Linked DNA regions of Homo sapiens. The protein of the gene in region 4 purifies or fractionates together with the protein of the main gene of each other region. This does not show direct contact. Each region holds a gene or a part of one and is shown on either strand. Other genes may lie near its edges.

The links.
Region 1: the proteins of USP26 (region 4) and ALB purify together in Homo sapiens (affinity purification with mass spectrometry, with the first as the bait; one large-scale study listed by BioGRID). This does not show direct contact.
Region 2: the proteins of USP26 (region 4) and CPSF1 purify together in Homo sapiens (affinity purification with mass spectrometry, with the first as the bait; one large-scale study listed by BioGRID). This does not show direct contact.
Region 3: the proteins of USP26 (region 4) and ATP1A2 purify together in Homo sapiens (affinity purification with mass spectrometry, with the first as the bait; one large-scale study listed by BioGRID). This does not show direct contact.

Annotation. Positions count from the first base shown.
Region 1 is NC_000004.12:73,407,287-73,410,786, reverse strand, and holds part of ALB (albumin preproprotein), read right to left. Parts: intron 2,194-3,500; coding exon 1,982-2,193; intron 1,433-1,981; coding exon 1,300-1,432; intron 476-1,299; coding exon 378-475; intron 1-377. UniProt on the Homo sapiens protein: Binds water, Ca(2+), Na(+), K(+), fatty acids, hormones, bilirubin and drugs. Its main function is the regulation of the colloidal osmotic pressure of blood. Major zinc transporter in plasma, typically binds about 80% of all plasma zinc.
Region 2 is NC_000008.11:144,402,836-144,406,335, forward strand, and holds part of CPSF1 (cleavage and polyadenylation specificity factor subunit 1), read right to left. Parts: intron 2,999-3,500; exon of another isoform or gene 2,995-2,998; intron 2,461-2,994; exon of another isoform or gene 2,330-2,460; intron 156-2,329; exon of another isoform or gene 32-155; intron 1-31. UniProt on the Homo sapiens protein: Component of the cleavage and polyadenylation specificity factor (CPSF) complex that plays a key role in pre-mRNA 3'-end formation, recognizing the AAUAAA signal sequence and interacting with poly(A) polymerase and other factors to bring about cleavage and poly(A) addition.
Region 3 is NC_000001.11:160,129,259-160,132,758, reverse strand, and holds part of ATP1A2 (sodium/potassium-transporting ATPase subunit alpha-2 precursor), read right to left. Parts: intron 3,494-3,500; coding exon 3,359-3,493; intron 2,658-3,358; coding exon 2,468-2,657; intron 2,338-2,467; coding exon 2,162-2,337; intron 1-2,161. UniProt on the Homo sapiens protein: This is the catalytic component of the active enzyme, which catalyzes the hydrolysis of ATP coupled with the exchange of sodium and potassium ions across the plasma membrane.
Region 4 is NC_000023.11:133,090,610-133,094,109, forward strand, and holds part of USP26 (ubiquitin carboxyl-terminal hydrolase 26), read right to left. Parts: intron 835-3,500; 5' UTR 744-834; intron 155-743; 5' UTR 109-154; intron 1-108. UniProt on the Homo sapiens protein: Deubiquitinase regulating several biological processes through the deubiquitination of components of these processes.

The DNA of each region.
Region 1 (3,500 bases), on a different chromosome or scaffold from region 4:
GTATCCACAAAAATTAAAAATAACTTTAAAAAATTAAATAAAGAACCATGCCTACAGCTCTATAAAAATAATGAACCATTAGAATAAGAGTCCAAGATTTTATAAATAAATAGAACTTAAATATCTGTCCCTTTTTTTAGGACAAAAAGGACAGCGTCCTCTAAATTATTCAACTATTTAGAAAAGAAAAGATTAAAAATAATGTCAAATTGTCATTGATATTCTGATTTTTACCTCTATTAGAGTTCTACCTGTTAGACAACCAAAGAAATGTATTTGACAGCACTTTGCAAAATACATAAAAATGTACAATTTGTCACTGAAGCATTATCATTTACATCGTTATAAAGATGCCAACTATGTTTAAAAGTATTTACCATGCTTTGAAAGCTCTTTCTCCAAATTTTTGGAGACTGGCACACTTGAGTCTCTGTTTGGCAGACGAAGCCTTCCCTTCATCCCGAAGTTCATCGAGCTACAAAAAGGAATAATTTGATGAAAATTAGAAGAAAAATTCTACATGAAACACCCCTCCATAAGCTCAGATGAGACTGTGCCAAATTAAATTTTGAAGGCATAATTTATGCCTAAATTCCCAAGTACTCCCTTTAGCGAATAATGATTTTGCTCTCTAAGAAAAGGAAAGATCATTCGATCATTCTGGTCACAGCGGAATTCCCTATGTAGTTAGAAACCAACTGGAAACATTGCCAGGAAAAAGAGCCTTAAAAGTGGGAGAAAAGTCAGAGAAAGAGTACGCTAATATCCCAGGGGCTGCAATTTTGCTAATTTTTAAATTTTGTGTATAATTCATTTCAGTCTCTCCTCCACCAACATCAGTAAACTCCTCAGAAAAGAAAATAAAGCATTCCATAATATATATTTATGGAATGAATGCATGAACTCAGGCATCTAGATGCAGTAAAATTCTCTACTTTGAATTCCCTCCCTACTAAAAATTATCATGAAAAGATAAACAAGAACTGTGGCCCCTTGCTGTGCAATTTGACAAACAAGTTTCAGTATTTCACTATAGTGATCACCACCATAAAAAGTGGTGAAATCTTTAAACACATGCACAGTGATTACCTCTGACAGATCATCATTGGCAAATCTTAAAAGAAGAAACGAGAGTGTAGGCCTTCAAAGATGAAAGATTTTCAAGACAGATAAAAGGAAGGCTTTTTTGACCATGTCGGAAAGTTTGTATCAGACACTCAGGTTCCCTAAATCTAGCCACAAAATGGACAAAATCAGGTTGGATAATGAACTCTTTTTTTCTATTCTTTTGCATAATACCTTTGGCAACAGGCAGGCAGCTTTATCAGCAGCTTGGCAACATTCTGTAAAAGCAGCTTTATACCTTTTAGCAAAGAAAAGGAGTTCCGGGGCATAAAAGTAAGGATGTCTTCTGGCAATTTCATATAAGTATCTAAATTTTGAAAAAGAAAAACAGTCACTTTTCTATAGCAGACAATATTACAGAAATAATTGTAATCGACATTCTCCCCAGAACCTCCAAATTCCAAAGATATCTAATTAACCAATTAAGCTCAATTTGCACATGATGGTCTTGTCTCTGTCATTCTTTAAGTATGTGGAAAAAAGGGTTAAGTGTGTGTGTGTGTGTGTGTGTGTGCATAAATGGTTAAATTTTGGCAATATAATGTTGCTGACTAAAACGAAATCAATTATAACAACCATATATACATATCTTCGTAATACATTAAATAATTTGTCTATCTTAAATTTTTCAGAAAGATTGTATCCTGTTTCAATAAACTTCAAAATATCTTTGATCATATTTTTTGCTGTGTAGAATTTTGTGGTATCAAATACTACTTCTTTAAAAAATCATCATAACAAAACTTCCAAGTCTTAATGTTGAAAATATTTTTGTTATGGTAATTTTTATAGAGTGTTGGCCTATGGAGTTACTCCATGCTTTTTAATTTTGAACTATAAACATCTGATTACTTACTTTTTCAAAAATGTCTCTTCATTGTCATGAAAAGCAGTGCACATCACATCAACCTCTGGTCTCACCAATCGGGGGAGGTTTGGGTTGTCATCTTTGTGTTGCAAGAAGCATTCATTTCTCTCAGGTTCTTGTTTTGCACAGCAGTCAGCCATTTCACCATAGGTTTCACGAAGAGTTGCAACTGTGCATAATTTGTCTCCAAAAAGGGTATGCTAAATGGAAGAAAGCAGGTTTCAGTTGCTGGACAGTACCTTTTTTCTTTATAGCCAAAGAACAGTACAAAGGATTTAATATACTGGTTAAGCTTGGTCAGGAAATCATTTAAAAATCCGCTTCCCCTCCCAATCGAGGTTTACAGTTTCTGATGATTTAACCATCTCTATATAATTTTCATAAGAATTAACTGTCACACTATAACTCATGGTGAATAAAACAGGACAAAAAGACAGTCAATAGCTTTAAGGAAAGTTATATGACTCCTATTTTGAAACTTAAAACTAAAGGGTAAGAGCAATCATTATAACAGAAATCAAGAGAAAATAAGCTTCTAAGCAGCAGGTGAATTCACCTAGGGGAGAAAAACATTCAGAGAGTTTCTCATTTCATTTGCCCCCTTTTTAGAGGGCCATGTTTTAGTATATGCCATTGAAAACTGAGGAGTAACACAATCCATCATATATTAAGTGACTATTAAGATATAGACATTTTTCTTCCAGAAATGTTACCTAAAATCACTTTCCAATAAATGAGTCCTTTCCTTATCTCTAATTTTTATTATGAAAGTAACTGTAACCCCAGGGAAAATATACTACTCTAGACAGAATTTATTAATTTTTATGTATTTTTAAGATTTCATATGTAGAGCCATAGTATTGTGTAAAGTTAAAGTCCTGACTCTGCTGTGAGGGAGAGGTACATAATAAAAAGGGGAAAGGCTCCAGTGATAAAAACTGGCCTTGCCCACAAGAGGTATATATAGATTGAGTGGTGAGAGAAAGATAAACCTGTCCTTGTTTTGAAGATTGATCTGGAAATACTAAAAGTTTAAAGTTCTTCAACATGACTAAGTACTCTGCTTTTTTATTGTATGTAGAAATACAAAGATATCTAAAATGAGGAATATATAGCTGTACTATTATTCCACCCAGGTAACAAAATTAGCATAGAAATCAGTGGGTGTTTTCTGATGATAAAAACCATGATATCATCTCTAAGAGATAGTAGCTCTCCTGTGTTCATTGCAACACTATTCATGATAGTCAAGATGTAGAAAACCAACCTAAATGTCTATCAATCAACAAATTAATGGATAAAGAAAATGTGGTACACACATGCACTGGAATATTATTCAGCCTTGAAAAGAAGGAAATTCTGCAATAGGCAACAACATGGTTGGACTTTGAATGCACTATGCTAAGGGAAATAAGTCAGTCATAAAAAGATAAACAGTACATAATACCACTTATATAAGGTAGCTAAAGTAGTCAAACTCATAGAATCAAAGAGTATAATGCTGGTT
Region 2 (3,500 bases), on a different chromosome or scaffold from region 4:
ACAGACAGGTGGGACAGGAAGTGACACCAACCTCCTCAAAACGCCTGCAGATGAGCCCAGTGACAAGCAGGGGTATTGTAACACAACTGGGTTGAGTTATTCCAGGAACGCAAAACTAGATTTCCGCAAGAACAGCCATCGCTAAACTTACCATGCTGTCAAAATTAAGGAGAAAAATCATGTCATTTTAGTGGATACAAAAAAAGCATCTGATAAAGGCATTCGTGATAAAAACTCCTAGTAAAGCAAAAATAGGAGGAAAATTTTTTTTTTTTTTTTGAGATGGAGTCTCACTTTGTTGCCCAGGCTGGAGTGCAATGGTGTGATTTTGGCTCACTGCAACCTCTGCCTTCCAGGTTCAAGCGATTCTCCTGTCTCAGCCTCCTCAGTAGCTGGGATTATAGGCGCCCACCACCACGTCCAGCTAATTTTTGTATTTTTAGTACAGACAGGGTTTTGCCATGGCCAGGCTGGTCTTCAACCCCTGACCTCAAGCGATACACTCACCTCGGCCTCTCAAAGCGCTGGGATTACAGGCATGAGCCACCACGCCAGGCCTTTGTTTTTTGACATAGGGCCTCACTGTCTCCCAGGTTGGAGTGCAGAGGAGCAATCATGTTTCACTGCAGCCTCGACCTCCTGGGCTTAGGTGATCCTCCCACCTCAGCCTCCTGAGTAGCTGGGACCACATGTGAGTCACCACACCTGACTAATTTATTTATTTTTTTAAATTTTGAGACAGAGTCTCACTCTGTCACCCAGGCTGGAGGGCAGTAGTGTGATCTCAGCTCCCTGCAACCTCTGCCTCCTGGGTTCAAGCAATTCTCCTGCCTCAGCCTCCCAAGTAGCTGGGATTACAGGCATGTGCTACCATGCCCGGCTATTTTTGTATTTTTAATAGATAGGGTTTTGCCATGTTGGCCAGGATGGTCTCGAACCCCTGACCTCAGGTGATCCACCCACCTTGGCCTCCCAAAGTGCAAGGATTATAGACATGAGCCACCGCGCCCAACTTCCTTAATCAAATAAAGGGTATCTACAAAAAGTCTACAGCAATGTGGTGCTGGGAGTGAAACATTACAAGTTTTCCCTTTTGAGGCCGGGCACAGTGGCTCACGCCTGTAATCCCAGCACTTTGGGAGGCCGAGGTGGGTGGATCACCTGAGGTAAGGAGTTCGAGACCAGTCTAGCCAACATGGTGACATAGTGAAATCCCGTCTCTACTAAAAATACAAAAATTAGCTGGGTGTGGTGGCAGGTGCCTGTAGTCCCAGCTACTCAGGAGGCTAAGGCAGGAGAATCGCTTGAATCCGGGAGGCGGAGGTTGCAGTGAGCCAAGATCATGCCATTGCACTCCAGCCTGGGGGACAAGAGAGAGACTTGGTCTCAAAAAAACAAACAAAAAAAGAAGTTTTCCCTCTTGGTCAGGACCAGCCAAGGACGCCTGATCCACTCTGCCAAGTATAAGGTCAATATACAGAGATCAACTGCACTTCTGTGTACATGCAAGAAACAGGGGTAACCACTCAGAAGAATTTTTTTTTTTTTTGAGACGGAGTCTTGCTCTGTCGCCAGGCTAGAGTGCAGTGGCACAATCTTGGCTTACTGCAAGCTCTGCCTCCCAGGTTCAAGCCATTCTCCTGCCTCAGCTTACCGAGTAGCTGGGACTACAAGCGCCCACCACCACGCCTAATTTTTTTTTTTTTTGTATTTTAGTAGACTCGGGGTTTCACCATCTTGGACAGGCTGGTCTTGAACTCCTGAGCTCAGGCAATCCACCCACCTCGGCCTGCCAAAGTGCTGGGATTACAGGCGTGAGCCACTGCGCCCGGCCACCACTCAGAAGGATTTTAAGAAAAATGTGTACATAGTCAAATGGTCTAACTGGCATGTTGGGGGAAAGGGGACAGAATCAATAGCTAAAGAAATAGCGACCAAAGGCTGGGCGTGGTGGCTCACGCCTGTAATCCCAGCACTTTGGGAGGCTGAGGCAAGCGGATCACGGGGTCAGGCGATCGAGACCATCCTGGCTAACACGGTGAAACCCCGTCTCTACTAAAAATACAAAAACATTAGTCGGGCGCCTGTAGTCCCAGCTACTCAGGAGGCTGAGGCAGGGGAATCGCTTGAACCCAGGAGGTGGAGCTTGCAGTGAGCCGAGATTGTGCCACTGCACTCCAGCCTGGGTGATAGAGCGAGACTCCGTCTAAAAAAAAAAAGAGAAAGAAAGAAAGAAAAAAAAACCTTGAAAATCTGAATAAGAGGACGTTTACAGGGTTTCAAAATAAGTCCCTACAAGATACTTTTAGTTACAAAAGGAAGAAATAACCTTACAGTGGGGGAATCCAGGCCAACACTACCCAACCAAGCATCAAAGCATCAGCATCCAGTCATGAGGCAAAGGCCTCCGCCGCCTCCTGAAAGCTGATGGGGCTGCTGTTTGCCTCTTCTGTGGTGTTCCTGTCAAAAATACAAATGTCTCATCTAAACACCTGGGAATGTCTTGGCCGGGCTCCGTGGCTCACACCTGTAATCCCAGCACTTTGGAAGGCCAAGGCGGGTGGATCACTTGAGGTCAGGAGTTCGAGACCAGCCTGGCCAACATGGTGAAACCCCATCTCTACCAAAAATACAAAAAATTAGCTGGGTGTGGTGGCAGGCGCCTGTAATCCCAGCTACTCGGGAGGTTGAGGCAGGAGAACTGCTTGAACCCGGGAGGCAGAGGTTGCAGTGAGCTGAGATCGCACTGTTGCACTCTATCCTGGGTGACAGAGGGAGACTCTCTCTCAAAAAAGAAAAAAAAAAGACAGCTGTATGAAAGGTGGCTGTCTCCCTCCCTCTCCAGGTGAATCTGGGCTGGAGGCTGCCTTTAGGGCAGACTGTGGTGGCAGGGACGGTGCCCTCCTGGTCTAGCCCTTAAAGTGACTGGCAGCTTCTGCCTTAGCCTCCTAGGGCTCTGAGTTCCTGCAAGAAGCTCAACTACACCAACACCACCATGCTGCCAGGAAAACCAAGCTAGCCATGCTGGGGACAGGGGAGAGTGGAGGGACGGTGTGGGGGTAGGGGAAGACACATCTAGCCTGTCCCCAGCTCTTCAAGTCATCCCTGTCAAGGCTTGCCCTGGTGGAGGAGAGCCAAGGGCTCCCCACACTCTGATGAATCCCTGAAAACCTGGCTTCCAGGTCTGCGATTATGATAAAAGACCTCGTTTGCATATTCCAGGGCAGTTAGTTACAGAGCCACGACTAGACTGACCCCAGGAGGATGGCTTGAGCACAGGAGTTCGAGGCCAGCCTGGACAACATAGCAAGACCCCGTTTCTTAAAAACAAAAAACAAAACAGAAGAAGAAAACCTCTTTTCCTGCTATTTATGGCTCCATTTCTTGCTTCAGTTTACGCACATCTCCTCCAGAGTTGTCTGTGTTCACTGTTACTGACTCTCCTCCCCTGCTGGGCTCTTACCCCTGCTCCATTCAGACCACAACCCCTCGTGCCCACC
Region 3 (3,500 bases), on a different chromosome or scaffold from region 4:
CTCTAAACCATACTCCAATGTTCACTGGAACATCTGTCTTTCCTGGGGTATCTTATAGACTCTTTAAGCTTAAGGTCAACATTGAACTCCTTTTCTCTACTCCTGCCACCCCACCAAGCCTGCTACTGCTCCCTACCTTAGATGTTGTCCTCTCTATTCATCCTGTCCCCTTCTCTCCTGTATCTTCCTCACCTTCCATATCCAGTTTGGTCACCAAGTTCTCAAAACATTTCTCAGACATGGCTATTCCTCTCCATTCCCTTTGTTTCTGCCCTAGTTCAGGTCATCATTCTTTGCCTGAACTATGGCAATGGCCTCTTAACCTGTCTCTCCCTGACTCCAGTTCTTCCCCAAATCCAGTCCCTCCTCAAACCAGGTAGTCTCCTAAAAGCTCAACCTCCCCCGTGACACTGATGGCTCTCTGTGGCCTGCAGGATAAAGCCCAAGTCTGGCATTTAAGCCAAGTCCTTCCAACTGGCTCTGACCCAGTGTTCCAGTCTCAACCCCCAGTACTCCTTGCCACCTCTCCCCTGCCAACCCCTACACACGCTCCGTACAGTCTAGCCACGCCAGGGTACACACTGTTCCCTGATCTTGACATGCCTTCCTCTCCCTCACTGCTTTGCAGAATACTCTTTGACCTCCAAAGCCCAGCTCAAATATCATTCCTTTTGTCAAACATCGTCCAGTTCTCTGAGGCAGAATTAATGCTTCCCTGAGCTGACTTCCCATAGAGGTCCTCTGCCCAGGCCTCCGTGATGGTTCTGATCACAGAGAGAGGCACCTGGCCAAGCAGCAGGAGCTCAGGCTTTCCGGTCAAGCAGATCATGCTTCATAGTCCCAGTCCATCACTTACTGGTGGTTTTATTTTGGGGAAAAGACTTACCCACTTGCAGTTTCCATTTGTTTTACTTTTTTTTTTTTTTTGAGATGGAGTCTTGCTCTTGTCGCCTAGGCTGGAGTGCAGTGGCCTAATCTCGGCTCACTGCAACCTCTGCCTCCCGGGTTCAAGTGATTCTCCTGCCTCAGCCTCCCAAGGAGCTGGGATTACAGGCACCTGCCACTACACGTGGCTAATTTTTGTATTTTTTTTTCAGTAGAGACGGGGTTTCACCATGTTGGCCAGGCTGGTCTTGGACTCCTTATCTCAGGTGATCCACCAGCCTTGGACCCCCCCAAAGTGCTGGGATTACAGGCATGAGCCACTGTGCCCAGCCTTGTTTTACTTTTAACAGGGATAATGATGCCTGCCTCGGAGACAGAGTGGTTATGGGGTTCAGAAACCACATACACCCACAGAAACAAGTCTCCTGGTATGATAGTTAAGAAATAGCAGACTGCCTTGGTTCAAGTACCTGCTCTATGACTTACACTAGCTGTGTGGCCTTGGCATGTTACTTTGTGCCTCAGTTTCCCTCTTTGTAAAAAAGGAAAAATACTGGTGCTTATTCACAGGGTTGTTGCGTAGATTAAATGAAATCATAGAGGTTTAGTGCTTAGAATAGTGCCTGATTTATATGTGTCCTCCCTGGCACAGCTCATTGTCCCATCTAGATGTGTCATGTGACACAAATTGTTTACTATGTATCAGGCACTGTGCAAGGTGCTAGAGTTTGCACCTTGCACAGTGTCTGAAACATAGTAAACAGTAAATATTTGTTGAATGAAGAACAAACATAGCACAGAGGAGGGAGTGGTCAGTGAGAAGCAATTGTAGTTGAACAAGAGAACCTTGAGTGGGAGGCATTCTGTGGGGTTATGGGCTGAGCCACTGGGAGCATACAAGAGCCTGCTAATCCCATCCTAAGTTGACAGAGAGGGTGGGCAGTAGTTGGGAAGGGTAGGACAACTAGGTCTTCAAGATAGGAGTGCCAGATTATGCTTCAAATCAGAATGGAAGGGTACACATGCAGATGGGACAAAGAGCTGTGCCAGGGAGGGAGAGGAGGGGCATGGGACACTGGCCTCTCTGAGCAAAAGGGATAAGGGTGAGTGCCCCAAGGCAGGGGTGGGCCTTTCCTTGCAGATGGACAGCTTCTTCTCTGAGTCAGTGGGAAGGAGGCCACCGTGGCCTGGGCCTTTCCAGGGCAGCAGCCACTGCAGCTCCTTGAACTCTGGCATGGGGGAGGCTAGAATGGAGGGGAGGATGGGAGGCCAGTACCTTGATGCCTGCGCTTCGGCACTTGCCCACAGCATCTGGCACAGCAGCCCGGGGAGGGTCAATCATAGACATGAGCCCCACAAAGCAAAGCTTCTCCGTGGGAAAGTTCAGCTCATCCGTGTCGAATTTGAAGCCCCGAGGAAACTTTCCAGATGGCAGATTCAGTTGACAGAATCCTAAAGGGGGGCAGAAGGGATCAGTGAGATCCGCAGAGTGGCTTCCTGGACGCCCCCACAGTCCCCCACCCCAGGGATGCCGCAGAGGCTTGGGAATCCCCTTCTGAGCCTCCTGTTTCTGGCCTCTCACCCAGCACACGCTCCCCAAGTCCCCCCAGCTCCATGTAGGCATTTTGAAAGGCATCTTGCATCTCCTTGTCGAGCGGGATCTCCTTGCCCTGCACCAGGATGGTGGAGCACCGGTCCAGAATGCGCTCTGGGGCCCCCTTCATCACCAGCACGTGGCTCTGGGGGCTGTCTTCTCGCTCGTGGATAGACAGCTGGAGAGACAACAGGTAGTTACAGAGAGGGCCATACTTGTCTTGGTAGCGCGGCATAGAGCAGCAGCTGGTAAGGAAACCACCTTAGAAAAGTAGCCCCAACCCATCAAAGATTGTCAACAAAGAGAATCTCCTTGTGCAGGGGGGTGTTTAGACCTCACAGTTCCAACACTTGTAACCTGAGAGCCACCTCCGTAGGACAGTCTTTCATTCAACAAATATTTATTGAGGTCAGGTTAAGACAGGCACTGTGCTAGGGGCTGAACGGCTCCCTCCTCAGCATCCCCACCACCACCTGGCCTCAGGGGGCTTTACCTCTATGGATAATAAGGAATGCTGAGATTGCATTCTTGGCATTTAACAGGTGCCTAAAGGCTAAGGGGCACCATAAAGGAATTACAGAATTATGGTTTCACTGACTGGGGTAGAAGAGTTGGAAGGCTAGGCCAGAGGATGCGGAGCTATGGGAAGAAGAGTTGAGAGAGTGACAGATTGTAGTAAGGGATGGAGTAAGGTTTGGGAGCTGGGGCTAGTTGCAATCAGACATGCAGTCATATGAGCTGTCCTGGGGGACTTAGCAGGGGGAGGGAACATGACCCTCAGACACCCCCACTCCTGCTAGTGATGATTCCCCTTGGCTTTGTCCACCCTCACCCATTTATATCCCTCTCTCTTCCTCTGTCCTGGCAACCCAAGCAGACCTGGTACTTGTTGGTAGAGTTGAAAGGAATCTCTGCCACCTTGGGGTTTCTGTCTCTCATTTTCCTCACTGAGCCACAGGAGAGCTCAATGCACTTGAGCAGAGCTGACTCAGAGGCATCACCAGCTGTGTCCCGCTGCCAG
Region 4 (3,500 bases):
ATTGACAGCAATGGTGAAATCAAGTTCAGACACAGGATCTCCACATGTTTGAAACAAACATATCAGATAGCAATCTAGGGGGAACAGCACAGATGCAGGAATGCTTACCAATCAACCCTTGTGGTTGGCTGCTATATAGAACAGAGACTATGACCTGGACAGGCACAAGAGAGAGCATTTATTATATGGGAGCATTCAACATAACCCAAATAACATTAGCACTTTTTGTCATGATCTATTTACCCAAATTCATTCATCCCACTGTACTTCTTTTGTGTAACAAGACAGGAAACACAAGGCTTAGGGAGCCTTAGCATGCAAACCCCAAATCTTTGTCCCCAGCTTCCAATGCCTGAATTCATTGACAATTTTTAACAGTGTCACAAAGTGTGAAAATACTATGTTAGAAACCAGCTGAGCTGCCAGACTACTGCCTTAGAGTGAAAATGAGCCCAGTGTCTTTCAGACTCAGAAACTGGAACCTTGTCATACCAGCAATGTCTGCAGAGCAAGGAAATGGACAACAATGTATGGAACAGTAAACATCTGAAGGAGTAATAACCTACATATTACTTTAATTGCTGGCGTATACCTTCAGGAACCCTAGCAAATAAATGTCACAAGTGGAGCAGGCTGGCAGACTACCATTCCCTGACACCTACTTGGTCCTCAGGACCTATCTTTTCCCTCCTTGTATATATAAGGCTGGCTTTCAAATTACCTTCAGACCCATATTCTCATACCTGAAACAAAGGCACCTGAGCAGCACTCCGCACTCCTTAACTCTTGAAGTTTTCTACAATCCAGTCCAGTCCCTCCTGCTGCTGTCTCTTACTGGTTTTCCAAAAAATAGAAATAAAGATCAGAACTTTGGTGTTAAAAAGTCAAAATCAGGTTTATTTGAAATCAGAACAGTCTAAGTTTGTCAATGTCTCTGTAACAGCGGCACCCACAGTGTACATGAGGAACACAATTAAGAAGTAGAAAAATATGCCCCTGTCTAATGAAAGGAACAGGTTGTAGAAACAGAGTCAGTATCATGGAGTCAGCAGTACTTAGGAAGAGTGACTACCACTGTTGGTAGTCCCTATCTCTAGAACTCTAGGAAGGGGTTTCAATGCCATCATTAATGATGCACAGGGGACAGGAGGAGGGGGCTGCCCTTCATAAGACACTAGTCACCTCACACAATGTAAGGACACCCTGAACTTGTCTAGGTGATCTTGACAATTGATTCCAATTCCATCTTTTTCACATTACAGAACCATAGGCTCACTGGTACTGGACTTTTCCATCACAGGTTCTGAAGGAGATGGTGACTGTATGAATCTGCCAAGAGACTTGCCTGTGGATGGACAGCCCAGCACCACTGCAGGAAAATTACATAACTTGGAACTCATTTTGGTGGATGGCTGGGGAACACTTCCTTTTCCACTTATTCAGAGAAACTTCTGAAAATGGTTGGTTGGATCAAGGTACCCAATCATACAGGGTGAAACATAATATAATAGGAACTGCATTAATCTTGTGGTTACAAGATCAGACAAGACTATTGCTTCAGAGGTTTGATTGTCCCTTCAAAATAAACTATAGTTCATCTTGCTTTAATCAAACATTATAGGGGAATTATATATTAAGCTAATAGGCAAGATCTCAACTTCTAGAAAGGGGAGTCTCAAAGATGTCAGTTGATTGTATTCATTACCATGGTGAAAAAGACTCATACAGGATCACAGATAACAAATTTTTGAAATCGGAGGTTTGAGTTGTTCACCAGCTTATACAATAGCATTCTCATGGTGTATTCGTGTAAGTAATTAGTAACACAGTAAGTTAGAAAAACATGGACATCAGAAGGAAGCTAGTATCATTTAGGATAATTTCACGAATAATTGCAACCATTAAATAATGTTGGTGCCATCTGACACTGAGAATAGATCTTCAAAGAAATAATCCACAAAAGTTTACAGTTGCTAATATTGGCTTTTGTGGGTATGCTCTTTGGAAAATATCCCCTCTAGGATTCTATGGGCGAAGTGGACATAAGAAAAGTGCCTTCGGCCTAATACCTGGATCTAAATTCTAAATTCTAGGGTTAAATTATTATTTAAGATCTAGGGCTCTGCTCAAAAAGTCAGGATCTATGAGGCTAGTTAATATCTTAATTCCTGAAATCTTGGCACCTTATATTAGCAAAGGCAGAGGTAACTTTCATTCTTACCAGCAACTGATTTTTCAGGTTTCTAAATTCAATCTAGAAGGATATTTGGAAAACACCAACTTTCTACCAATAAAGGTACTAATAAGTCATTCAGATGCTAGATAATATATATAATTCAAATCCAAATCAAGAATAAACCAGGCTAGGCCAGGCACAGTGGCTCACGCCTGTAATCTCAACACTTGGGAGGTTGAGGCAGGTGAATGTCTTGAGCCCAGGAGTTGGAGACCAGCCTGGGCAACATGGCAAAACCCCATCTCTCAAAAACAAAAAGAAAAACAAAACAAAACAACAACAATGACAACAAACCATGCATTGCGGTGTGCACATCCCAGCTACCAGCTACTTGGGAGGATGAGGTGGGGGGATCACTTGAGCCCAGGAAGGCAGAGGTTGCAGTGAGCTAAGATTACTGCCACTGCACTCCAGCCTGGGTGACAGAGTGAAACCTCTCTCTCTCAAAAAAACAAAAAGTAAAATTAAATAAACATTTTAATCAGTATCCAGAAAAATTACTAGATTAAATCATTCAACAAATATTACTTGAGTGCCTGCTATATATCAGGCACTATTAGAGACACCACGTTTATAGCACGGAAGAAAAAAGTTCTTGCCCCCATGGAGCTTAAAGTCTATTGAGGAGGAAGAAAAATTAGCCAGGCATGGTGGCACATGCCTATAGTCTCAGCTACTCAGGAGGCTGAGGTGGAAGGATTGCTTGAGCCCAGAAGTCAAGGCTGCAGTGAACCACGATGGCACCACTGCACTCTAGCCTAGGCGACAGAGTGAGACTCTGTGTCCAAAAAAGAAAAAAAAATCCTCAACTCTCATAGCATTATTTAACAGATAATGTCAAAAAAGAAATATAAGCCAGGTGCAGTGGCTCACGTCTATAATCTGAGCACTTTGGAAGGCCAAGTGGGGTGGATCACTTAAACCCAGGAGTTGGAGATCAGCCTGGGCAACATGGCAAAATTCCGTCTCTATAAAAAATACAAAAATTAGCCAGGTGGGTTGGCATATGCCTTCAGTCCCAGCTACTCAGGAGGCTGAGGTGGAAGGATCACTTGAGCCCAGGAGGTCGAGGCTGTAGAGTGCCGTGATCACACCACTGCACTCCATCCTGGGTAACAAAGCCAGACCCTGTCTCAAAAAAAAAAAAAAAAAAAAAAAAAAGAGTAAACCAGGCCAAAGACTAATAAGTAAATTCAATCAGCACCATTTAAAAAAATACTTACACTTTATCCTCAAAGCAAAAATCTTGTTTCTCAGTGATTAT